3 linked regions of the Homo sapiens genome follow. The protein of the gene in region 2 interacts with the protein of the main gene of each other region in a biochemical or structural test. Each region holds a gene or a part of one and is shown on either strand. Other genes may lie near its edges.

The links.
Region 1: the proteins of SPRR2A (region 2) and CTTN form a complex in vitro, tested with the Homo sapiens proteins (one study listed by BioGRID and IntAct).
Region 3: the proteins of SPRR2A (region 2) and PEX13 form a complex in vitro, tested with the Homo sapiens proteins (one study listed by BioGRID).

What each region holds. Positions count from the first base shown.
Region 1 is NC_000011.10:70,414,647-70,423,083, reverse strand, and holds part of CTTN (src substrate cortactin), read right to left. Parts: coding exon 8,432-8,437; intron 7,422-8,431; coding exon 7,367-7,421; intron 6,072-7,366; coding exon 5,961-6,071; intron 3,339-5,960; coding exon 3,228-3,338; intron 2,685-3,227; coding exon 2,574-2,684; intron 1,615-2,573; coding exon 1,504-1,614; intron 576-1,503; coding exon of another isoform or gene 532-575; exon of another isoform or gene 145-531; coding exon 89-144; intron 1-88.
Region 2 is NC_000001.11:153,054,922-153,062,556, forward strand, and holds SPRR2A (small proline-rich protein 2A), read right to left. Parts: upstream 2,592-7,635; 5' UTR 2,550-2,591; intron 1,834-2,549; 5' UTR 1,815-1,833; coding exon 1,596-1,814; 3' UTR 1,199-1,595; downstream 1-1,198. UniProt on the Homo sapiens protein: Gut bactericidal protein that selectively kills Gram-positive bacteria by binding to negatively charged lipids on bacterial membranes, leading to bacterial membrane permeabilization and disruption.
Region 3 is NC_000002.12:61,020,257-61,028,693, reverse strand, and holds part of PEX13 (peroxisome biogenesis factor 13), read right to left. Parts: intron 1-8,437. UniProt on the Homo sapiens protein: Component of the PEX13-PEX14 docking complex, a translocon channel that specifically mediates the import of peroxisomal cargo proteins bound to PEX5 receptor.

The sequences.
Region 1 (8,437 bases), on a different chromosome or scaffold from region 2:
CGCGTGGATGTTGGCCAGCACGGTGAGCCACGCCCACCAAGAGCCCCTGCAGGCAGAAGACACTAAGCTCCGGGGCTGGAATATTTACCTTATCCATCCGATCCTTCTGCACCCCATACTTCCCGCCGAATCCTTTGGAGTAGTCTGAAACGTGGCAAAACACAACACTTACTCTGAGGTGGAGGCGAGCATGGGGGTGGCCGTGGGTGCATGCAGACAGATCCAGAAACAGCCCAAGAAGGTGCACCACAGCGGGAAGAAACGAGAATGGCCAAGCGAGGCTTCACTTGCAAGGCAAGTTTTGCTTCCACCCATGGTCGTGAGACACAGGCAGTGAGAAGCAGAGCACAGGCCAGGGGCAGAGGCTTCAGCATTCCCTGAGGGGCAGGAGGGGCAGGAGGGGCGGCGGGCAGCAGGCAGGAGCTAAGCGAGGAAAGAGGGCACGGACAGGCCTTTGCAACGCGCCACTTCAATAGCACAGTCTTCCGCACCAGCACGGGCTTATTCTCATCTGCTTCCTGTGCGCCTGCTCTACTGAGCGCTAAAAAGAGGCTCAATCGCAGTTTGTTCTCTTGCTTTTTAAGAGAAAAAAAAAATCCATGTGGAAATTCTACCAGCCAAAGACTTCCGTTGCAGCAACACAGATCCACATGAAAGTCACACTGTCATGCAGCAGTGATGCCACGGAGAGCCACTGCCATCTCCATGCAGTCTGCGGGACCACCCCAGGTGTGTCTACCTGCCCACACCTGAACACTGCTGTGTGTTTCTAACGCTGCAGGTGGAAAGCCTAGAGTCTTCCCTGCAAGGTTAGGGAATTACTGTTTTTCCAATTATGTGTTCAGGTTCTAATAACCAAGTCCAAATTTTGAAGGTAACAACATAACTGCTCTAAGGAAGGATGCAGAGCTGGCTTCACGTACATACTGTGTGGCTCTGTGTGGAGATGTTACACACATATGGTGTCATCAAACAGAACAAACAAAAAACCTCCCAACCCCGGCCAAAAACACCACCACAAATGAAACACAGAAACCACACAGAACACGCCTGTCTCCTGGCCCTTGCTGCTACGAAGCCCCTGGTCAAATGGCCAGTGGTTTGGTTGAACCAACACCTCTCTCCTCATCTGGAAGGCCTGACTCAGTGGCTCACGGCAGTCACCAATAACAGCAGAACAGCCTCGGGCAGAATGCTGCTGGAGACCGGAGATGCCCCAGTCCAGAGACTGGATGGGTCACCGGGTTAGAAAGATGGCACCCACACACTAACTGGCGCATCCTGCCATACACAGATCACAAGTTCACAGGGAAGAAAGTGAACCACTCAAAATCAGTGTCGCTCTACTAGAAATGGGTTTAAAGTGCCGAACAGCCTGACAGCTGACAAGTGGTGACACAGGAGGACTGTGTTGCAGGTGCTGACGGTGAGCCCTGAAGTCTGTGCTAGAAGTGGCCGCACAGGAGGGTCGGGGGGAGGGTAGGAGGCTGGTGGCAACTGTGCCTTGCTGGGACTCGTGCTTGGCCAGCTTCTCCTTGTAATCAAACCCCACAGCAGCGGAGTCCTGCCTCTCCGACTGAACACCGAATTTGCCTCCAAAACCAGTCTTATAATCTGAAAATCCACAAGCAACGGTGGGGAAAACAACCAAAAGAGGAAACACAGTTGGGTTAGAATTGCATGAGCATGCGCAAAAATCAAACACAGTTTCCAGAAAGCAAGGGCTCTCCTGAGCTTAGGGCCTTTGAGATCCTACTCCCAGGCTCAGCGCCAGAAGGTGGCTCCAGAGGTCAACGTTAAAGAATGAACTTAAAATCTGAACATTCAGCGAAGATCTGGAACAGCCTAAGAACTGTACTTCAAATAATTCAGTAAAGGCACTCCCGGCTGTGCAGTTCATTCTTAGCGTCCTACGCACACTGCAGACGAGTGTGCGTATCTGTGTACACGGGAGGAGAGACCCTGCAGATTCGGAGGGCGCTGCAGCCCCATTAGCCCCGCTCCTGCTTCTCTCAGGGCTGGGTCACACTGAGAGGCTTTCAGCCCCCTCAGGCTCCTTTTTCCAGGGAAGGGGCACCCATTCCAACAAGAAAACACTTTCGGTTCAAAAGTAAGTATCTCCTGCCAAAAACCGTGGCCCACTTTATAGACAAGAAGCCTGGATGAGGAGCACTGCAGGCTTGGCCCATGTCCCCACTCCCGGGTAAACCCAGCCCCCCGCTGCAGGCCTGACACATGCCCCCACTCCCGGGTAAACCCAGCCCCCCGCTGCAGGCTTGACCCATGTCCCCACTCCTGGGTAAACCCAGCCCCCTGCTGCAGGCTTGGCCCGTGCAACCCACTTCCAGGTAAACCCAGCTCTCTGGGGTACCACCCCGTGTCAGCAGGGAGGGTTTGTGACTACACTAGCTGGAGGGAACTGGGGGATTGGGGGGGCACACAGGACAACTTCAAACAGTGAAGACAAAACAATGTGCAGCAGGCACACGCAGACACAACACATACCAACTGACCCCGCAAGGAACAAAAACAAACTTCTAAAACCATCTCGCATACAGGCAGAGTGAATGTACCTTTTTGGGATTCATGCAGCTGCAATTTCTCCTGGTGATCCCAGCCAAGGGCACATTTGTCTTGTCTGTCTGTCTGCACACCAAATTTTCCTCCAAACCCTTTCACATAGTCTACATGCACAATGAAAGGCCAGAACCCATCATTAACAGGTAGTGCAGGTCACAGGTGGAAAGTATGTTTTCAATACAGTTAAACGCATATGATTCACTCAATCTACTCTTCCCTTCCGGATCTTTGGTAATACTTTAGATAACATCCATGAAGAGGCCCTCCTTGGAGAGTGGCAGGAAATAACCTAGTCTATGACCTCAGCATCGTGACTAAGCCAGACAGGACCCCATGGAAGCTCCCACGCATGCGGCTTCCACCCGCACCATGAGACAGCACAGGCTCACACGGGCAACACAGACGTGCGGGGTGTGGCCACCACGATAAGCAACGCCGCTGGGGCTGGAGCGCCATAACACTCAAGCTGCGAGTTCCTATTTAGCAGCTGTGTTTCTGGATGTGCCGTTTTCAAGTTGGGCATTTCATGAAAAAGAGACATCTACGTTAAGGGCTATCAATAACGCTTTGTTTTTCCTTTTCCGGTGTGGCTACCACCTGTCACATTACTAGCTGCTGGCTGGAGGGTAAGATAAAACGGAAGACACCTTTCTGGGACTCGTGCTTCTCCGTTTTGCCTTGATACTCAAAGCCAACGGCGCTCTTATCCACTTTGTCCTTGTCGATACCGTATTTGCCGCCGAAACCTTTGGAGTAATCTAAAAACAAACAAAAAAGGACTACTTTAAAAGGAGCAACGAAATCAGTGAACATGCAAGTATTTTATCCTTTGATTAAAAAAACAAAAATCTTTCAGGTCCACTGTAGGACCACTGAATAATACAGACAGTATTTAAAGGTGCTATTTATGTGTAATAACAGAAACACAAACAGTGGTAACCAGAGGTGGGGGTGTGTGCCTGCAGCCCAGCTACTCAGGAGGCTGAGAAGGGAGGATCACTTGAGCCCAGGAGGCGGAGTCCAGCCTGAGCAACATAGCAAGACCCCATCTCTAAGTTAAATCATTAGCTAATATTTTAAAAATTCAAAAAACAGGCTGGGGGAGGGGGCTCACGCCTGTAATCACAGCACTTTGGGAGGTCGAGGTGGGTGGATCACCTGAGGTCAGGGGTTTAAGTCCAGCCTGACCAACATTATGAAACCCCATCTCTACTAAAAATACAAAATTAGCTGGGCGTGGTGGCCCACACCTGTAATCCCAGCTACTCGGGAGGCTGAGGCAGAAGAATCACTGGAACCCAGGAGGTGAAGGTTGCAGTGAGCCGAGATTGCGCCACTGCACTCCAGCCTGAGCAACAAGAGTGAAACTCCATCTCAAAAAAAAAAAAAGAATTAAGAAAAAAAGTTTTTTTTTTTAAAGTACAGCAGAGGCTGGACACAGTGGCTCACACCTGTAATCCCAGCACTTTGGGAGGCCAAGGTGGGCGGATCATGAGGTCAAGAGATCAAGACCATCCTGGGCAACATGGTGAAACCCCGCCTCTACTAAAAATACAAAAATTAGCTGGGCTTGGTGGTGCATGCCTGTAATCCCGGCTACTCAGGAGACTGAGGCAGGAGAATTGTTTGAACCCGGAAGGAGGAGGTTGCACTGAGCTGAGATCGCACCACTGCACTCCAGCCTGGCGAGAGAGAGAGACTCCGTCTCAAAAAAAAAAAAAAAAGAAATAAAGTACAGCAGATGAATTCCTGTAACATCATCCATTGCATCCAGAAGCTAGCAGGAGATGAGAGTTTATGATAAGGCTCTAAGCTCAGGAGGCAGCAGAAGGGCAAGGCTTTCAAAGGCCACTCTTCACAAACTGAAGCACGCAGGGGGATGCCAGGAAATAGGACACACACAGCATCCTCCAGAAACTTCAGTTCTACTCAGAATGAAGCCATTTAGCATGTCACTGTGACACCAAAACATGACTCTCTCATGGACCCACTAACAGCACAAGGCAGAGGATCAAGGCCTGGGAGAGAAGGCCTGAAGCATCCAAGGAGCCTTGCGTCTGCCCAGGTGCTCGGCCTGTGCTCCCTGGCTCCCTGGAGTCACACACTCATGCAGCTTCGCGGAGCATGCGCTGCTCACAACTGTGTGGTGTCGGGAAGAGGAGGAATGGACTGTTCCCAGGAAAGAGGCAGAGAGCAGAGGCAAGCAGCTCTGTGCGGCAGGCAAGGCCTGACCGGCAGGAAGGCAAGGCCAGGCCAGGCCGCGACAAACTACAAGCCAAGCTGCCCTCCAGGCCACCGGCACTTTCCTCAGGGAAATGCCAAGCCAGCATGGTCGGATCTTCCAGTGGTGTTTCTTGCTTTGGGGTAATTTTTTTTTTTTTTGAGTTTTTAAATAGTCAAGCTCTCACTTTTCAAATGTTGGCAAATATTTTTAAAAATTTAAATGTGCAGGCCAAACAAGAGGCACAGGGAAACAGGCAGGCCACAGCCTCTGCAGCCCTGGGAAACGCTCTGAGTGATGGTGTACAGGCTATGCAGTGGGGAAGGAAGAACTCAGCACAGCCTCCAAGGACAACTTGGCAGTATCTATGGAAATTTTACATTCAATAGCCTTCGACCCAGCAATTCCATGTCTAGGAGTTGATTCTTTTGAATAATCACTTGTGAACAAAACACAGGTACAAGAATGTTCCCTGCAGTCAAGTTTCAGCTGGGCGCAGTGGCTCACACCTGTAATCCCAGCACTTTGGGAGGCCAAGGCAGGGCGATCACCTGAGGTCAGGAATTCAAGACCAGCCTGGGCAACATGGCAGAACTCCGTCTCTACTAAAAATACAAAAATTAGCTGGGCGTGGTGGCGTGTGCTTGTAATCCCGGCTAGCCGGGAGGCTGAAGCACGAGAATTGCTTGAACCAGGGAGGTGGAGGTTGCAGTGAGCAGAGATCACGCCACTACACTCCAGCCTGGGCAACGGAGCGAGACTCCGTCTAAAAGAAAAAAAAAAAAAATTTACAGGTCACACCTGTAATCCCAGCACTTAAGGAAACCAAGGTGGGGGAGGATTGCTTGAGACCACGGAGATCAAGACCAGTCCGGGCAACACGGCAAGACCTCATCTCTACCAAAAATAAATAAATAAATAAATAAATAACCTAAATTCCACATTCAAAAAAGGAATGGTTACATGGACTATGGAATCCTCATACGATGGGGAACTGTGCAGCCATTCGAATTAGGAAAAGCCCACATACACTGGTACGAAAAGAACACCAAACATTTTCAGTTAAAAAATCTACAACAATCACGTGTGCAGAGAGAAAATGCCCTCGTGGGTGTTTCTGGAGCAAACGCGTGATTACAGACCGTGGGGTCCGCCCCACCTCTCTGTGACTCGTGCTTCTCCGTCTTGCCCTGGTAGTCGAAGCCCACCGCGCTCTTGTCTACTCGGTCGGCCTGCACGCCATACTTGCCGCCAAAACCACTGGAGTAGTCTGGAGAGACAGGGCAGCAATTAGCACGGGGGCCTGAGGACGAACTACACTGTTCCTTTTGTTAAACTAAGCAAAAGTGTGTAGGGGTTACAACTCACAAACACATCAAGCGCACATTTTAAAATGTACAACAAGCCACCCACTGCTCCATACAGGTGACGCTGGACCCTGTTTCACAACAGGTGCATGGGGGGGTTCTGGGCCCTGTCAGCTGTTACAGGGCAGTTCCTTTGTGTAGTCAGAAATGACGCTGCATGCCCACTTTGAAAATCAACTGCTCAGGTAAAAGCTGGAAAGCTTCATACAAAGAACCAGCACTTTGGAGGCTGAGGTGGGCGGATCACTTGAGGCCAGGAGTTTGAGACCAGCCTGGCCAACGTGGCAAAACCCCATCTTTACTAAAAAATAGAAAAACTAGCCAGGGGTAGTGGCACACACCTGTAATCCCAGCTACTTGGGAGGCTGAGGCAGGAGAATCGTTTGAACCCAGGAGGCGCAGGTTGCAGTGAGCCGAGATCGTGCCACTGCACTCCAGCCTGGGCAACAGAGCGAGACTCTGTCTCAAAACAAACAAACAAACAAAACAAAATGAAAAAAATGGAAAGAGAAAGCCTCATATGAAGAAAGCCATGCAGCTGAACATGGGAGACAAGACCCTGATCCTCCGCCTGCCCACACCACAGCTACCTCCACCTAGACTGCACCGAGACTGCGTAAGGACTGAGAGCTTGTTCCGCGGATGATGCAATGACACAAAGGAGGAAGAACTAAATAAGCTTGCAAAAAATAAACTGAGAACTTTAAGGTGGCGATATGCTTTGGTCTTTCAAAAAAGAGACTGCATGATGTAATCAAGATTAATCACCAGCAGTTAAGACCGTATGTGTATAAGGAAAACAAGAATTTAACAACTCTGGTTTCTAGCCTTGGGGGGAAGTTAGCTTTCTGCCGATCAATCTGTGAGCTCTCTTTTCCAGGAGGAGCGCTGCCCAGATGAAGGGAAGGCGGCTTCCGCTACAAGGGGGAGAAGCCCCACAATGACAGCAGATGCCAGGGCTCCGAGGGGGATGTGTAACGGGGAATACATCCATCATGTGGTATCCAGATGATCCAGAAACATGAAGAGGAGGGCAGAGTCCTCCTTGTGGCAACAGCCACCGCTCAGGAAACGGCTTCAGGTGGCTGTGACTCTCCCCATCAGGGCCCCCGGAGCGCGGGGAAACGGCTTCAGGTGGCTGTGACTCTCCCCATCGGGGCCCCCGGAGCGGGCTCTTTCTGCACCTTTCGCGTCTTACCTTTCTGGGAGGCATGCTTCTCAGTCTTCCCCTGGTATTCAAAGCCTACAGCAGACTGTGACGACCAAAAACACATGAAAAAGTGGGGAGAAATACTTTCCAATGTCCCTGAAACAATCTCTCTGAATTCATGACATGACATTTAAAAAAATATGAAACACATGATGCTGTGACCTCTGGGTTCCTAAGCCAGGTGCAGGTGGCAGTGACGCAAGAGCTCTGGCATCCTAAACGGACAGGCCCACTGCAAGGCCCAGTGGGCGGCGCAGGCCAAGCCATATCCCTGGTGACCTGCCCTCCCCAGCATGCGGCAGCAGGGAATGCTCAGCTGATTCATTCCACGGGCTTCACAAAAACTCGCTTCTCAAATAAGTCATGCTGAGAACATTAGTATTAGTAATGAGAATAGCAGTGGCCACCAGGGGTGCACTCCCACCAGCCAGGCACTGCGATGGGCATCTGAGCAAACACCCGTGAGATAGGTATGATCATCCTCCTTTCACAGACACATAAATTCAGAACCGTGGCTAATATGTCACAAAGCCACAATCTGCGACCAGCATCAGCTCCCTGCTCCCTCCAGGCTCCTGATCGCTCCTCTATTAAACAAAAGAGCCAACAGACCCGAGCCGAAGAGAATCAAAGAGGCTCGGGCCTAGGATGACTGCAACAACACCTGGACGCAAAGCCTGGGTCCTGGACACGAGCGCATCCTGCCCCCCCGGTATAGGCTCTGATGTCACTCTGTCACAGTAACACACATGTGAGAAACACGGGTGGAAACGGTCCCTGCTGGCACATTGGGACAGACACAGGGCCATCCAGTACTGAGGCACGTAGTGAAGAGCGACCGCAGGGACTGCTACAGCAAGCCCGCCGCATCCTGCTTCCTCTCTCTGAGAGCCCAGGCTCTCAGAGCATCCTGGGAGGCAGATGCCCCTCTCTGCAGTCCCCCAGAGCTGGAGGGCACCTGCCTGCTACTACAAGTGGCCCAACAGGGCTCAGATCTACGGGGAACGCCCCCCTTGCCCCAACCTGCCCCAGTCCCAGTGCCACATCACTCACCTGATC
Region 2 (7,635 bases):
CTAAAAGCAGAACTACTATTCAATCCAGCAATCCAGCTGCTGTGTATCTATCCAAAGGAAATCAGTACGCAAAAAGGATGCCTGAACTCCCACGGTTATTGCAGTACTGTTCACAACAGAAAAGATGTGTAAGCTAAGTGTCCATTAATGAATGAATGAATAAAGAAAATATGTATATACACACAATGAAATACTAGTCCATTGTAATAAAATGAATGAAATCCTGTCATTGGCAGCAACACAGATGGAACTGGAGGTCATTATGTTAAGTAAAATAAATCAAGCAGAGAAAGACAAATATTGCATGTTCTCACTCATATGTAGGAGCTACAAATGATGATCTATAAAGGTAGAGAGTAGAATGAGAGATACCAGAGGCAAGGAAGGGTGTTCAGGGGGATGGGGAATGAAGAAATACTGGTTAACGAGTAAAAACATATGGATACATAAAATGAGTAAGTTTTAATATTTGATAGCAGAGGAAGGTGACTACGGTATACAACAATGTACTGTGTTCTTCAAAATAGCTAGAATTAAAATGTTCCCAATAAAGAACAATGATAAATGCTGCAGGGGATGAATGCCCTAAATTTCCTGATATCCTGACTTGATCATTACACATTCTATTCATGTAAAAAATCACATGTATGCAGTAAATGTGTACAAGTATTATGAATCAATACAAATAACATTAGAGAGTCTTCTTATTTCCTATGTTAGTTACACCCAAGCCACTCTCTTGCTGGAACAAATATGGTAGTGGTTGTAGTGGGGAGTGATGATGATGAGGAGGAGGAGGAGGAGGATGGTGATGGTGAAAACAATGATAATATGTTGCTGCGAATACAACTCTATCAAATGACAGCTAATTACGTGTCAGGCATTGTGCCAACCAAATATCAGATAGTAATCAAATTTTATGCCTTAGACTAGTTTGTAATGTAAATGTTATTTTGCTCACTTTGCAGTAAAGAGAAGTTGTCAATTCAGAGAAGTTGAATAATATCCTCCTCAAATCAATCAAATGCTAATTAGGGAAAATAAAAGGGGTTTAAAATGATACAGAAATAATCTTTGGTATGACTCCAATTGTGAGATCCTGCTGTGAATCAAAGAAAGATTGAAATAAATCCAAAAGATTACATACTATTGCTAATAAAGCAGATTTGAAAATAAACAAAAGATCCATTCACAAATATATATGCATAGATACTTTATTCAGGGAGTGAAAGATAAGTGACAATTGCAAAGGTGGTAGAAGCTCGTGACCAGGTGACAGACAGACACAGAACACATCAACAGAATTCTCTGATGGTTCCCAGGGAGAGAGCTGCTGCTCTTTCTTCCGAAGCTCTGGGAGCTGGCACAGCCCAGGACTTCCTTTGCTCAGTCTCCACCTGGACAGTGGCAGTATGGCAGCCTCAGAAAAGAAACTTTTTGCTGTCAGGGATCATCATGGGCAGATTACTGGCTAAGGAGAAAGAAGCTCCCTGTGTATCCATGGTAGGCTTTGATGAGAAGATGAAGGTGGAGCTGTGGAACGAGGTGAGCCAAATATCCTTATCCTTTCTTGGTCCTGATGAATTCTGAAGCTGTTACTTGCTCTTCGGTGGATACTTTGACTGGCAGGGTGGGGAAGGTGTCACAGGAGGATATTTCTGCTGGCACTGCTGAGGTGGGCAGGGCTGTGGACACTTTGGTGGTGGGCAGGGCTCAGGGCACTTCGGGGGTGGACATGGCTCTGGGCACTTTGGCGTGGGGCACACAGGAGGTGGCTGGCAGGGCTGCTTGCACTGCTGCTGTTGATAAGACATCCTGCTGGAGTCTCAGGATCTGAAAGAAATGATACAACAGTGTTCGTGGGAAGGGAATCCTCCAGAGAGAGAAGCCAAAGCTTGTGTAATACCATGGCATATTATTTCTCCAATCTCCAAGAAATTATTTAAATTCTTAATTACCTTTTCAAGACTTTCTGGTTTCTCCCTTCCACTTTAACAAATTGCTTCATTGTCCCTAGGAAATCCTGTGTTTTCTCATACAATTTTTCCAAATAAATTATCTCTGTTATAAAGAATCAAGCATCTTATTTCCCTGAAAATAACCAATTCAAGAAAGGCAGTCACAAGTTCAGACACCCTGGGCAATCTAATATGCTATTCCTATCATCATTATCTGTTATAAAGTCCAAGTGGGCTGACTTGGGCATAGAGCAAAGGGCTGCTCAGGGAGAATTGTAGTCTTTCACACCTGCTAAGACACAAACCTTTGTAAAGGACACTAGAAAGACAGAGAATAAAGAAAAATACTTTGTTCTTTTTTCTTCTTCATATCAAAGGTTACCCCTTAACTTCTCTGTCCATATGGATACCTACCTGTATAACAAAAGAAAGCTAAAATAGCATATAATTGTGCTCTAATCTTAAATTTTCATCCACTAAGTAGCATCAAGTCAATTTTCATAGGATTGGATCCACCAAACTTGCCATATTCAGATTAAACTCAACATTTCAGGGCACAAAGAACAGAGGAACTCAAGGAAGCCGACTCACCAGGTTCTCCAAGGCAGATCAGTGCTCAGGTACCAGGGGTTTAAGAGTCGTGCAGCAGAGGATCTCTTTATAGAGCCTGCTACCCCACCCAGCAGGAAGTGAAACTACCCAAAACAATGCTGATCCAGTAATTTCTTAAGCCAGATGCAAATTTATCCATGACTGGCATGAGCAGGATACTCAAAATAGGAAATATCCTGTTCTGAAATCTCTCCTCTGGGTTAAGCTCTCCTGACTCACAGAAGCCATGCCTTGGATCTCAGTTTCAGTGACTTATGGCAAAGAGGGACTTGGGGGAATCTCTAACTGATGGTCAAGGGATCTCTTTCTTAATTGGGAACAAAGATATTTTCCTGTCTTACACCTTCCCTAAATCATAAAACTTCTGCCCTCATTCACTTTACCTGAATGCCTTATTGTTGTACATGAACTCAACTGTACCTCTACTTTCCTCATGCAATTTGCCAATGTGCTAGGAGGAAGGGGAGACCTAACAAAGGCCTGAGTTCTAGCTCAAGCCTTTTCTTTGCTCTGTTGTATGACCACAGGCAAGTCACTTCTCCTCCACGGAACTGTAAACAGGGAGAATAATACTTACCCCTGAGTTTGCAGGCATTGACCGCATTGTGCCACCTGATGACCCTGTTCGAGCTTGAAATTTTTTCTTCTACCTCTTTCTTTCTCTCATAAAACCCCAGATTTTACCTGTATTATCTTCCTCTTTAAAACTGTCTTCTCTAATCCATTTGTAGAGGCATTTGTCTCCCAGGATAGATTCCAAAGTGAGATCGAGTCTCCCTAGCACGTTTTCTACTTGCTGCCCTTAGGGATGTGTACTATAACTTTTTATTTATAAAAATGTACTCTTGGACACCACCTTAAGGAAGTAGAGAGAATGGAACCAAAGTTGCAAGCATTCACTCAAAATCTATGTATTGAAACTTGCCTATGTTCAATACATTTTACATACATTTTTAGTATAATTTGAATATTTTAAATATTACATAATCTCCCAAAACATTCTGTAGTGTCCTGTGAATATCCTATAGAGAACAAGCTGCATAGACTCATGTTATCATATGTAAATAATTAGAAGTAGGTTTGCAGAGTGCAGAAGTTCAGAGCACTTAAAGTCTGAAATCTAGAGGAAAATAAAAGCTAAGTGTAATCCAATATGTATTCTTGCTCTCTATTTCCAAACAGGTTTTAGGTGTTTGAAAGACAGTGTTTTAAAATTTGTTTGTATGTTCTTCCTTTGTTTTTTCCGTAGACCCTCTAGTCCCACAGTCTGCTGGATTATCAACTCACACCCCAATGTACACCTCTCATCTGTCCATTTTGGTACATATTGTTCACTTAACACATATGTTGTCAATGCATTTAGTGATTGTTCTTTCACATCTTTTTTAAGCTCTTTTACAATCATAAGGTTTTCTAAATATTGTATATTAAGCATTTAAAGTGATATTGCTAGAGCTTCCTTATCTGGACCATTAATCAGGAAGCTTTCCAAGAATGTGGTTTTGTAAGTAGATAAGAAGAAAGGGGAATGAGGAAGAGGAAAGACAAAATCATCAGAGCAGTCACCAGCTATGCTCCAGGAAGAACATGTGTTGAATGAACCCAGCATCACATCCCTCAGTTAAGCAGGTTAGGTACCCAGAACTGCTATTTCTCCTGTCAGTAAGGAAGGGCTTTTGGCTAAGATCATCACTGGCCAGGACACTACAGAAATAGAGCCAACATATCAGAACCTTGAGGCCAGGTGTTTACAAATGGTGTTCTCACCAAGTGTTTCCTATAGACTATTACACATGTCAAGCACTTCACTGGGCAAAGTAAAGGGCCTTTACTCAATAGGTCCCCTACTACTCCCCAACAGCCTCACATCACATCTAAAACACAAATCCTTAAAGAAATATCTGATTTGTGCCATGCAAAATTGAAGAATTTGCTGCCAGATGAGATCACTGTGTGAGATAACACAGTCTGAGTCACACCCTGCGACACCCCTTCTGAGAACACCGCATTCCAACAGGAGGCTTATCACACCAGTGCAGGCACTAGAATGGCAGCAGCCCTAGTGCCCCCCGCATCTCAGACAGGCTCACTTTACAAGTTGAGGTGGTGAACTTGAAACTCAGAGTTCCACACAGAGCAGCCACATGAGGAACGGCCACAATATGAAGAGGGGCAGCTAACAGTCACAGCTTCCCCAAGTTAGGACATCCAGGCCTTGATACATGGAGCGAGGCATACTTCACACATGCACACACACACACACATACACACGCACTCCATGGGTCTTTATTTATCTATCATCTATCTTCATGTCTAAAGAGCTTAGCTTTATGTTTCTTAACAGTCTGATAGCCTTAGATTCATTCCTATTATTTCTACTTCCTAATTTTGTAAGGGATCATTAAGTACGAATTATTAGTTCATAAAAATGACAGGAAAGAACAAAAACTTTTATTTGGTGTAATATTTGATTCAACATTTTATCTCACATTTTACTATGATACATTCTGCTATACAAAATAGTGCTGGCAAGTGAAGATTTAAAATAAAATATGAAAAAACAAAGAAACAGGAATTGTTGCAAAATATTCTTGATATGTTAAGAGAAATGGTAACTACCAGTCCCCATGCATATCTGCCTTCTGCTTTTATTTCTGAATAGCAGGCTTAGTCTCCATTGTCCTTCCATAATTCGATGAATTAGATAAACATATGGTAGAATTCTGAAAGTAATTAAGAAGAATGTTTTGGGAGATTATGTAATATTATTTAAAATATTCAAATTATACTAAAAAATGTATGTAAAGCATGATAACATTTTCATTAAAAGATGGGAAACATAAAACAACATACTAAATGTGATTATATATGGCTGGTATAATTACAGATGATGTTTATGTTCTTATTTAACTTTTCAAAGTATGCTTCAAATGTTACCTATTATTGAGTAAGGAATCTTAAAATTCTACTTTGAAAAGCTAACAAGAGACAAGCCTGTCCATTGCTCAGTTAGTGAGATAGTGGGTTTTTTGGGTTTTTTTTAAGCATTATTGGCTAGACACTAAAGGTGGGGCAGGATGTAAGTAGCAGTAGTTTTATTGTAATAGCTCTACATTTGATCACATCCCTTCTAAAATCTCTCTCGAAGAAAACTCCAATAATAATCCCCCTTCCTCAGAGTATTGACATATACACACAGATGTTTACAAATGGTGTTCTCTCCAAATGTGAGAATCGTAGTAACCACAGACACCCAATAGCTGTATGTGTCTGTGAAATCATTCACCAAAATTGGGAGATCATTCTAGGATAACAAAATCAGGAATGAGTTTGTCTACTATCCAAGAGCCAGGTGGATAGAAAGCATAAATTGGCCATAATATGATGAAATTGGAAGAGATGGATGATTAGCAGGACAGGTAGTAAGGATAGTAGAACGTGGTGATAATAATAGTAACTACCACTAAATTGTCATGAGAAAACAATTAAATCAGAGACTGCATATAAATACTTAGCACAGGCTACAGATAGTGCTCAAAATGCTAAAGTAACACATTGTTAATGAAAGAAATAGAGACAAAATATCAATTTCAAGTTGTTTATGGTTAAGAAAGATACTTGCTTTCTCTTTAAGATCTTTTATATTATCCTTATTTTAACTGTGTGCCAGAAGTTTTTAGGACAAAGCAAATGCAAATATATTATTTGAATGAAGTGGGCAGAAATAATAAGATGGGCTGATCCTGACGTTTATTCTTATGTGATAAAAATGAGAGTTAATCTAAGCAGAAATTTAGATCAGTTCCTAGTTGTTCGTACTCTCTAAGACTTTCCTCTGAATTCAGTTAATACAAGAAAATAAATCTAAATACAGTAAATAGCAATATGTGGATGTGTTCATTTGTAAAATATTAACATACATAGATATTTAGCATTCCATGTGAAAATATATATAATGTTACCTCCAATTTAGTTTACTGTTATGTGGTTAGCTGTTTAGGACATTAATAAAAAACACTCATTCAAATATCACATTTCTTCTGGTGGCAAATTACCTAAATTTTAGGCTAAATCCTTATAAGAAACTGAATAGCTCATTAGCACTAACCTTCCCAAAGTGAATAGACCTTATAGATTCTACTGTTATTTTCTCTATATGTTAGATCAGAATATTTAAGAGCATAATTTCAAGAGCTATTAGTAATGTAAAGTACTCCTGTTGCTTAATGTTAATGAGATTAAGAAGGACATATGGTAAATGATAGAATGAATCAGACACTTCTCCTCATAAGAATCTTTTCAAGATAGTGAATGTGCATAGGCTGTGGTTTCCTTCCAAAAAAAGTCAAAAAGGAAAATAAGGAAACACGAACAAAATTGTGAAAAATTTTGAAGAGGAAAAAAACTGTTTGAAATCTAATATGGGGAGAGCTGAAATTCTACTGTAAGTTAGAAATATATGAAATAAAACATAAACATTATTAGAACAATCAAAACTAACAGTCTTACAGAGATAAACACAATTTTACAATATGATCCAGCAAATTTTGATCTAGTACATTTCAAAATATTTCAACAAAAAATAACCTGCATTCAAATGATTGCAGCAGCTTTATTCATAAATTCCAAGAAGCGTGATCTACCAAGATGCCCTTCAATAAATGAATCGATAAACCACGGTGGATTATACCCATGCAGTGGAACACTATGCAGTGATAACATGGAATGATCTATCAAGAAATACAAAGATATGAATGAATTTTAAATGCAAACTGGTAAGTTTAAAAAAAGTCAGTCTCAAAGGCTACACACTGTTTCTAAAATGGTTCCATTTATATGATTTCTGTAAAATGCAAAATTACACATCCAAAAAGCACAACAAACTCCAAGTTCAATGAATTCAATGACACCCACACTGAGACACATTATAATTAAATTATCAAAAGAGAGAATCTTGAAAGCAGGAAGAAGGAAGTAAATCATCATATCTAAGGGATCCTTAATAAGTAGTTGACCAAATTCTTATCAGAAGTAGTTTTCTGAATAAGTAATTTTCAATATATCA
Region 3 (8,437 bases), on a different chromosome or scaffold from region 2:
ACCCCCAGCCCAGGCATGGTGGCTCATGCCTGTAATCCCAGCACTTTGGGAGGCTGAGGCAGGCGGGTCCCCTCAGGTTAGGAGTTCGAGACCAGCCTGGCCAACATGGTGAAACCCCGTCTCTACTAAAAATACAAAAATTAGCCGGACGTGGTGGTGGGTGCCTGTAGTCCCAGCTACTCGGGAGGCTGAGGGAGAATCGCTTGAACCCCAGAGGCGGCTGTTGCAGTGAGCTGAGATCATGCCACTGCCCTCCAGTCTGGGTGACACAGTGAGACTCTGTTTCAAAAAAAAAAAAAAAGAAAAGAAAGAAATGTCCTACCCCCAGATTTGTGTTTCCCCCAAGTGTTGTTTAACTTGTACTCTTATTTCGCCTCCTATTAAATTAAGATTGCATTTAACGGTTTGATTGCAATCAGGTTCAATATTTTTTGGCAAGAATAATTCATAAGTGATGTTGTTTACTTCACACAGTATTACTTTAGGAGGCGCATTTGTGAAGCTAAATTTGATTAGTTGGTTAAGGAGGTGACTATTAGATCTTTCCATTAAAATGTATCTTTCCCTTTGTAATTAGTATATAATCTATGGGATGACAGTTTTGTACCACAAATATTCTATTCCTCAGCAACTGTTCATTTGATAGTTTAGCATCGATTCATCATCCTTGCCTGAAACAAATATTAGATGTGGAACTGCAAAATGGTAATTTTCTAATCCAGGCTAAAGTTTTAATTTAGACTTGTATCGTAATATTATAAACAAGCTACTAGAACTCTATTTTTTTTTCTTTTATTGGATCTGATATTTAAAAATGGAACAAAACTTAAAAGGAGCCAGTGAACGGCCAGATAGTGCAGTGCATTCAGGCTTTAATGAAACAGTTCTGCTCCCAAGTATAAGCAATAATAGAGAAAACAGAGAGACAAACAAACAGACATTATCTAGATTTAACACAAGACAGACTTATGGAAGAGAAACTAAACAGAAATGTAAAATGGTAAGGAGGGCTGAAGCTACGGGCCTACTCAATTCTGGTTCTGTAATCAGGCAGTGACAGCCAAGATGCAGGCTTCAATGAAGTAACAAAAACGAAAAGTGCTCCATTAAAATGGAACCAGTTCAATGCTTGAGGCTGGGAATGAGGATGTGCCACCTTGACTCCTACAAAGAGATTATAAAATTTGCTGATGACAGTTTAATATTTTGAGAAAGTTACAGAACTAAGAGAGGGAGAGGACTGTGATAAGGCCTCCAGCCCAGGAAATGAAACAACTGACCGACTTGATGTGTGATATCCTTAATCTAACTCGCTGTTTTTGTGTGTGTGTGTGTGTTTTGTTTTTTTTTTTTTTGAGACAGAGTCTCACTCTGTCACCCAAGCTGGAGTTCAGTGGTGCAATCACGGCTCACTGCAACCTCAAACTCCTAGGCTCAAGCGATCCCTCCCACCTCAGCTTCCCAAGTAGCTGGGACTACAGGCGTGCACCACCATGCCTGCCTTTTTTTTTTTTTTTCTTTTTGATATTTTTTGTAGAAATGGGTTCTCGCTACATCTTGAGAGGCTGGTTTCCAACTCCTGGGCTCAAGCAATCCTCCTGCCTTGGCCTCCCAAAGAGCTAAGATTACAGGTGTGAGCCACCATGCCCAGTCTGACCCACTGTTTTTACACCTGATTCTTACCTAAGTGGTAGGTAGAGGGAACAGGGAGAGGCAACAGGACACCTATTAGATAGAGAGAGGGGAACATGGAAGAGGGAAAGGAGAGAAAACAGAACTCCAAAATTACTACTCAAAATGACCATCTCAAAAATGCCACACACATGAAGAAATAAAAACACTAAGAAACAAAGCCAACAAAAATCAGCAAGTATAAAACCCAATTTAAAAAAACTAATTTTATATAACAGCTCAGGAATGATTTTAGATATGTTAAAAATTATCAGAGAGAGAAATGAAATAATATCTGTGAAATAAAAATTGAAATTAAATAAAAACATTTAAATATTTTAAAAATTCCATTAGAAATCTTAGAAAAGGTGGCCACAGGCCAGGCGTGGTGGCTCATGTCTGCAATCCCAGCACTTTGGGAGGCTGAGGTGGGTGGATCACAATGTCAGGAGTTCAAGACCAGCCTGGCCAAGATGGTGAAATACTGTCTCTACTAAAAATACAAAAATTAGCCACGCGTGGTGGTGGGCGCCTGTAATCTCAGCTCCTCGGGTGGCTGAGGCAGAGAATTGCTTGAACCTGGGAAGCGGACAGAGGTTGAGGTGAGCCGAGATAGCACCACTGCACTCCGGCCTGGGCGACAGAGTGAGACTCCGTCTCAAAAAAAAAAAAAAAAAAGAAAAAAGAAAAGGTGGCCACAGCCACTGGAACCGTTTTTCAACTACCGGTCAAGAAGAAAATTAGCTGCTGTACACTAAGGAGCAGAATGGAAATACAGAACTTGGGAATTCTATTTTAAGTAATGGTTGTCGAGGTAATTAGATTAACCCTCCCAATGAACTAGAAGGGAAGGAAATAGGAAGGAATTCTGTTTAAAGCATTAGAGAACGAGGCACCGAAGAATTCTGGAGACAAAATCAAGGAGGAAAAAAAAAACCCAGAGAGCCAGATCTTTTCAGGCGTTTCTCTAGAAACCAGGGCCAATTCCAGAAGAGATGGTTGACAGGATGAGAAGCTGGGCAGAGATTTTAAGACTCCCTGGGCTAAGGAGCCATAAACTGGAGTTCAGAACCCTAAAGAGGAAAGCCATAGGGAACCCTCACACTTCAGATTGGGACCTTAAAAAGGGAAATATGCTAGTAGAAAGGGTGAAAAGGTTAACAGGAAATGGACTACCTGGCAGGAATGAAAACCAAGTTTTAAATCAGCTCAATCCTTTATTGGATTAAAGTGATTCTAGATTGTTAGTGGCCTAACATTCTGGTCAAAAGGAAAAGTCTTTAGAGAAAGATATCCTTAGGCCTCAAATCACATTAAACTGTCTATATACAATGTGCAGCTCTCATTAAAAAATAAACGGGCTTGGCTGGGCATGGTGGCTCACTCCTATAATCCCAGCACTTTGGGAGGCTGAGGCAGGTGGGTCACTTGAATCCAAGAGTTTGAGACCAGCCTGTCCAGCATGGCGAAACCCTGTCTCTACTAAAAATACAAAAATTAGCCAGGTGTGGTGGCGAATGCCTGTAATCCCAGCTACTCAGGTGGCTGAAGCACAAGAATCACTCGAACCTGGGTGACAGGGGTTGTAGTGAGCCGAGATTGTACCACTGCACTCCAGCCTGGGCAACAGAGCAAGACTCTGTCTTAATAATAATAATAATAATGATAATAATAATAATAATGATAGGGCTTACATAACAAAATTATGGGTGGATCATGAGGTCAGGAGTTCAAGACCAGCCTGGCCAAGATGGTGAAACCCCGTCTCTATTAAAAACTATAAAAAATTAGCTGGGTGCAGTGGCAGGTGCCTGTAATCCCAGCTACGGGGGAGGCTCAGGCAGGAGAATTGCTTGAACCTGGGTGGCAGAGGTTGCAATGAGCCGAGATCACGCCACTGCACTCCAGCCTGGGCAACAGAGTGAGACTGTCTCAAAAACAAAACAAACAAACAAAAAAAGAAACTTCAGATAATACAAAGAGCTCCAAAGGGGATCTAGATAATAGAGTTATTATAGACTTATTAGGCAGAAACTTTAAACAACTGTGTTGAATATATTCAAATAAAAAAGGCAAGATTGGGATTTTCCAAAAGAAAATAGGAACTATAATATAAAGCAGGACCAAATGAAGATTCTACAACTAAAAACAACACCAAACCAAACCTGAAATTATGAACTCAATGACTGTTTTTTTTGTTTTTGTTTTTGTTCTTAGATGGAGTCTCACTCTGTTGCCCAGGCTGGACTGCAGTGGCGTGATCTCGGCTCACTGCAAGCTCAGCCTCCTGGGTTCATACCATTCTCCGGCCTCAGCCTCCTGAGTAGCTGGGACTACAGGCGCCCACCACCACGCCCAGCTAATTTTTTGTATTTTCAGTAGAGACGGGGCTTCACCATGTTAGCCAGGATGGTCTCGATCTCCTGACCTCGTGATCCACGCGCCTCGGCCTCCCAAAGTGCTGGGATTACAGGCATGAGCCACTGCACCCGGCCTCAATGACTGGTTTAATACCAGATTAGACACAGTGAAAGAAAAATATCAGTGAACTAGGAAAGAGATGGGAAGAAAATACCCAGAATGAAGCATAAGAAACAGAAGGATAAATACAGAAAAGAGAGTAAGATACAGGGAGTATAGTGACATATGGGGTATATATGCAAGTTGAGTTAAAGGAGTAAAGTGACAATAGATAGAAACCATATTTAAAGAAATAATGGCTTAAAGTTTTCTGGAATTAATAAGAGGCATCAAAGTCAGATTCAAGTATCCCTGTGAATTCCACCCAGGATAATACAAAGAAGACCACACTGAGGCCTAACAAAGCAAACTGCTGAAAACTAAAACAGAGAAAAAATATTGAAAGCAACCAGATCAGGGGTGGGGTAAGATTCTTTTTAAAGGAGCAAAGAATAAGACAGAGATGGTGAGGGAGTGGTGGCTCATGCCTGTAATCCCAGCACTTTGGGAGACCTAGGTGGGAAGATCACTTGAGCCCAGGAATTTAAGATCGGCCTTGGCAACATGGTAAAAACCCATCTCTACAAAAAATACAAAAATTAGCTGGGCGTTGTGGCACTTACCTGTGGTCCCAGCCACTCGGGAGGCTGAGGTGGGAGGACTGCTTGAGCCCTGGGAGATGGAAGCTGCAGTGAGGTGTGATTGCGTCACCACACTCCAGCCTGGTGACAGAGTGAAACTTATTTCAAAACAAACAAACAAACAAACAAACAAAACAAAAGACAGAGATGGCCAAAAAGTCAAGAGAGCTGACAAAAAAAAAAAAAAAAGAAGTCAGGAAAAACTTAGGTCCCTTGATGACAATGTTGAGAAGGCAGATCTCTAGACTTCTTGCTAACTAAACAATAAATGTCTTAATAGTCCAAATCACAGTGAGTCAGATAATGTTACTTATAGCAGACACTAGTCCCGATATAATGCTTGACAGAAGAAGAGACAGTAAAGACTAGTGTTCAAACAAAACTTAAAATAATATTTAAAGGTATAATTGATGAGCATTTTCCTGAATTAAAAAAAGAAATGAATCCTCAGACTGAATACTGTGGATACTAAGCAGGAAGAAAAAAAAAATATGTGTGTGTGTGTGTGTGTGTGTGTGTCTGTATATTCCTACCTGGTTACAATATAATAAAGCTAGAGGACCAAACGTATCAAGGCTACTAAGGAGAAGGCAGTCTGCCTATAAAGAAATGAATTAGGCCAGGTGAGATGGCTCATGCCTGTAATCCCAGCATTTTGGGAGGCTGAGGTGAGAGGATTGCTTGAGCCCAGGAGTTCGAGACCAGCCTGGGAAACAAGGCAAAACTCCATCTCTACTAAAAATATAAAAATTAGTTGGGCATGGTGGCATGCACCTGTAGTCCCAGCTACTCAGGAGGCTGAGGCAGGAGGACCACTTAATCCCAGGATGTAGAAGCTGCAGTGAGCCATGACTGCACCACTGCACTCCAGCCCGGGTGGCAGAGTGAGACACTGTCTGAAAAAAAAAAGGAAATTAGACTCAACAGAAAAACCTATCTAGCTATAAAACTTTGATACAAAACCAGAATAGTACAAAGAAAAAAAATTCAATTTCACCTAGGAACATGTATGCAACAGTCTCACAATATTAGAATAGAGTTCTTTTTCTTTTTGGAGACAGGGTCTTGCTATGTCACCCAGGCTGGAGTGCAGTGGTATGATGACAGCTCACTGCAGCCTTGAACTCCTGGACTCAAAGGGATCCTCCCACCTCAGCCTCCCTAGTGGCTAGGACTACAGGCACACACCACTACACCTGGCCAATTTTAAAATTTTTTATAGACAGAGTCTTGTTATGTTGCTCAGACTAGTCTTGAACTTCTGGCCTCAAGCAATCCTCCTGCCCTGGCCTTCCAAAATGCTAGGATTACAAATGTGAACCACTCCAACTGGTTTAGAATAGAATTTGGAATTGCATATCAGAAAAAAATCAAGACTAATCAAAGTTCATTGAGAAATGCAAGGATGGTTCAACAATAGAAGGTTGATACAATAAACATTTTCTCTAATCTTGTCTTCTCACTTTATTTCATCAATTTGATCTTCAATTACTGATATCCTTTTTTCCACTTGATTGAATCAGCTATTGAAGCTTGTGCGTGCATCACGAAGTTCTTGTGCCATGGTTTTCAGCTCCATCAGGTCATTTAAGGTCTTCTCTACACTGTTTATTCTAGTAAGCCATTCATCTAACCTTTTTTCAAGGTTTTTAGCTTCTTTGCGACGGGTTAGAACATGCTCCTTTAGCTCGGAGAAGTTTGTTATTGCCGACCTTCTGAAGCCTACTTCTGTCAACTCGTCAAAGTCATTCTCTGTCCAGCTTTGTTCCGTTGCTGGCAAGGAGCTGCGATCCTTTGGAGGAGATGAGGTGCTCTGATTTTTAGAATTTTCAGCTTTTCTGCTCTGGTTTCTCCCCATCTTTGTGGTTTTATCTACCTTTGGTCTTTGATGTTGGTAACCTACAAATGGGGTTTTGGTGTGGATGTCCTTTTTGTTGATGTTGAAGCTATTCCTTTCTGTCTACTAGTTTTCCTTCTAATGGTCACGTCCCTCAGCTGCAGGTCTGTTGGAGTTTGCTGGAGGTCCACTGCAGACCCTGTTTGCCTGGGTATCACCAGCAGAGGCTACAGAACAGCAAATATTGCTGCCTGATCCTTCCTCTGGAAGCTTTGTCCCAGAGGGACACCTGCCTGTTTGAGGTGTCTGTCAGCCCCTACTGGGAGGTGTTTCCCAGTCAGGCTACACGGGGGTCAGGGACCCACTTGAGGAGGCCGTCTGTCCGTTCTCAGAGCTCAAACACCATGCTGGGAGAACCACTGCTCTCTTCAGAGCTATCAGACAGGGACGTTTAAGTCCACAGAAGTTTCTGCTGCCTTTTGCTCAGCTATGCCCTGCCCACAGAGCTGAAGTCTATGGAGGCAGTAGGCCTTGCTGAGCTGCAGTGGGCTCCTCCCAGTTCAAGCTTCCTGGGCGCTCTGTTTACCTACTCAAGCCTCAGCAATGGTGGATTCCCCTCCCCCTGCCAGGCTGCTGCCTCGCAGATTGATCTCAGACTGCTGTGCTAGCACTGAGCAAGGCTCCATGGGTATAGGATCCGTCAAGCCAGGCATGGGAGAGAATCTCCTGGTCTGCTTGTTGCTAAGACTGTGGAAAAAGCCCACTATTTGGGCAGAAGTGTCCCATTTTTCCAGGTATAGTCTGTCACGGCATCCCTTGGTTAGGAAAGGGAAATCCCCCAATCCCTTGCGCTTCCTGGGTGAGGTGATGCCCCGCCTCGATTTGGCTCACCCTCCATGGGGTGCGACCAGTGTTCAACCAGTCCCAGTGAGATGAACCAGGTACCTCAGTTGGAAACACAGAAATCACCCGTCCTGTGCGTCAATCACGCTGGGAGCTGCAGACCAGAGCTGTTCCTATTCCCACATTTTCATACTAAAGCGAAAATACATACAATGGTCTCAACAGATGCAGAAAAGCCATTCATAAAATTTAATATTTCTTCACAATAAAAATCTGAGCAAGGTAAGGGCTGGGCATAGTGACTCACACCTGTAATCTCAGCACTTTGGGAGGCCTAGGTGGGCAGATCACCTGAGGTCAGGAGTTCAAGACCAGCCTGGCCAACATAGTGAAACCCCATCTCTATTAAAAATACAAAAATTAGCTGGGCGGAGTGGCACGCGCCTGTAGTCTCAACTGTCCGGGAGACTGAGGCAGGAGAATCACTTGAACCCAGGAGGTAGAGGTTGCCATGAGCCAAGATTGCGTCTCTGCACTCCAGCCTGGGAGACACAGTGAGACTCCATCTCAAACAAAAATAAAAATGAAATAAAAATAAAATAAAATAAATCTGAGCAAGGTAGAGAGAGAGAATTTTGACAAGATATCTATCAAAAACAAAAAGCAAACTTCACATTTAACAGTAAAACTTCAGAAGCACTCCAGTGGAAGTCAGGACCAATACAAGGATGCTAGCTTATCTGTAAATGACAGAACTGGCTACACAAAACTAAAGAGAATTTCAACCAAACCATCAGAACTAATTAAGAGTTTGAGATTATGCTGTACATAATATTTACATTAAAAAAAATCAATAGCATTCTGCCATACCAGTTAATAACCAACTGGAAAATGTAAAAGGAAAAAAGAAAGCCCATTTGCAACTACTACAGCAAAAATAATCTAGGAATAAAAAATAAAATATGGAAAAAAATTTCATGGAGGT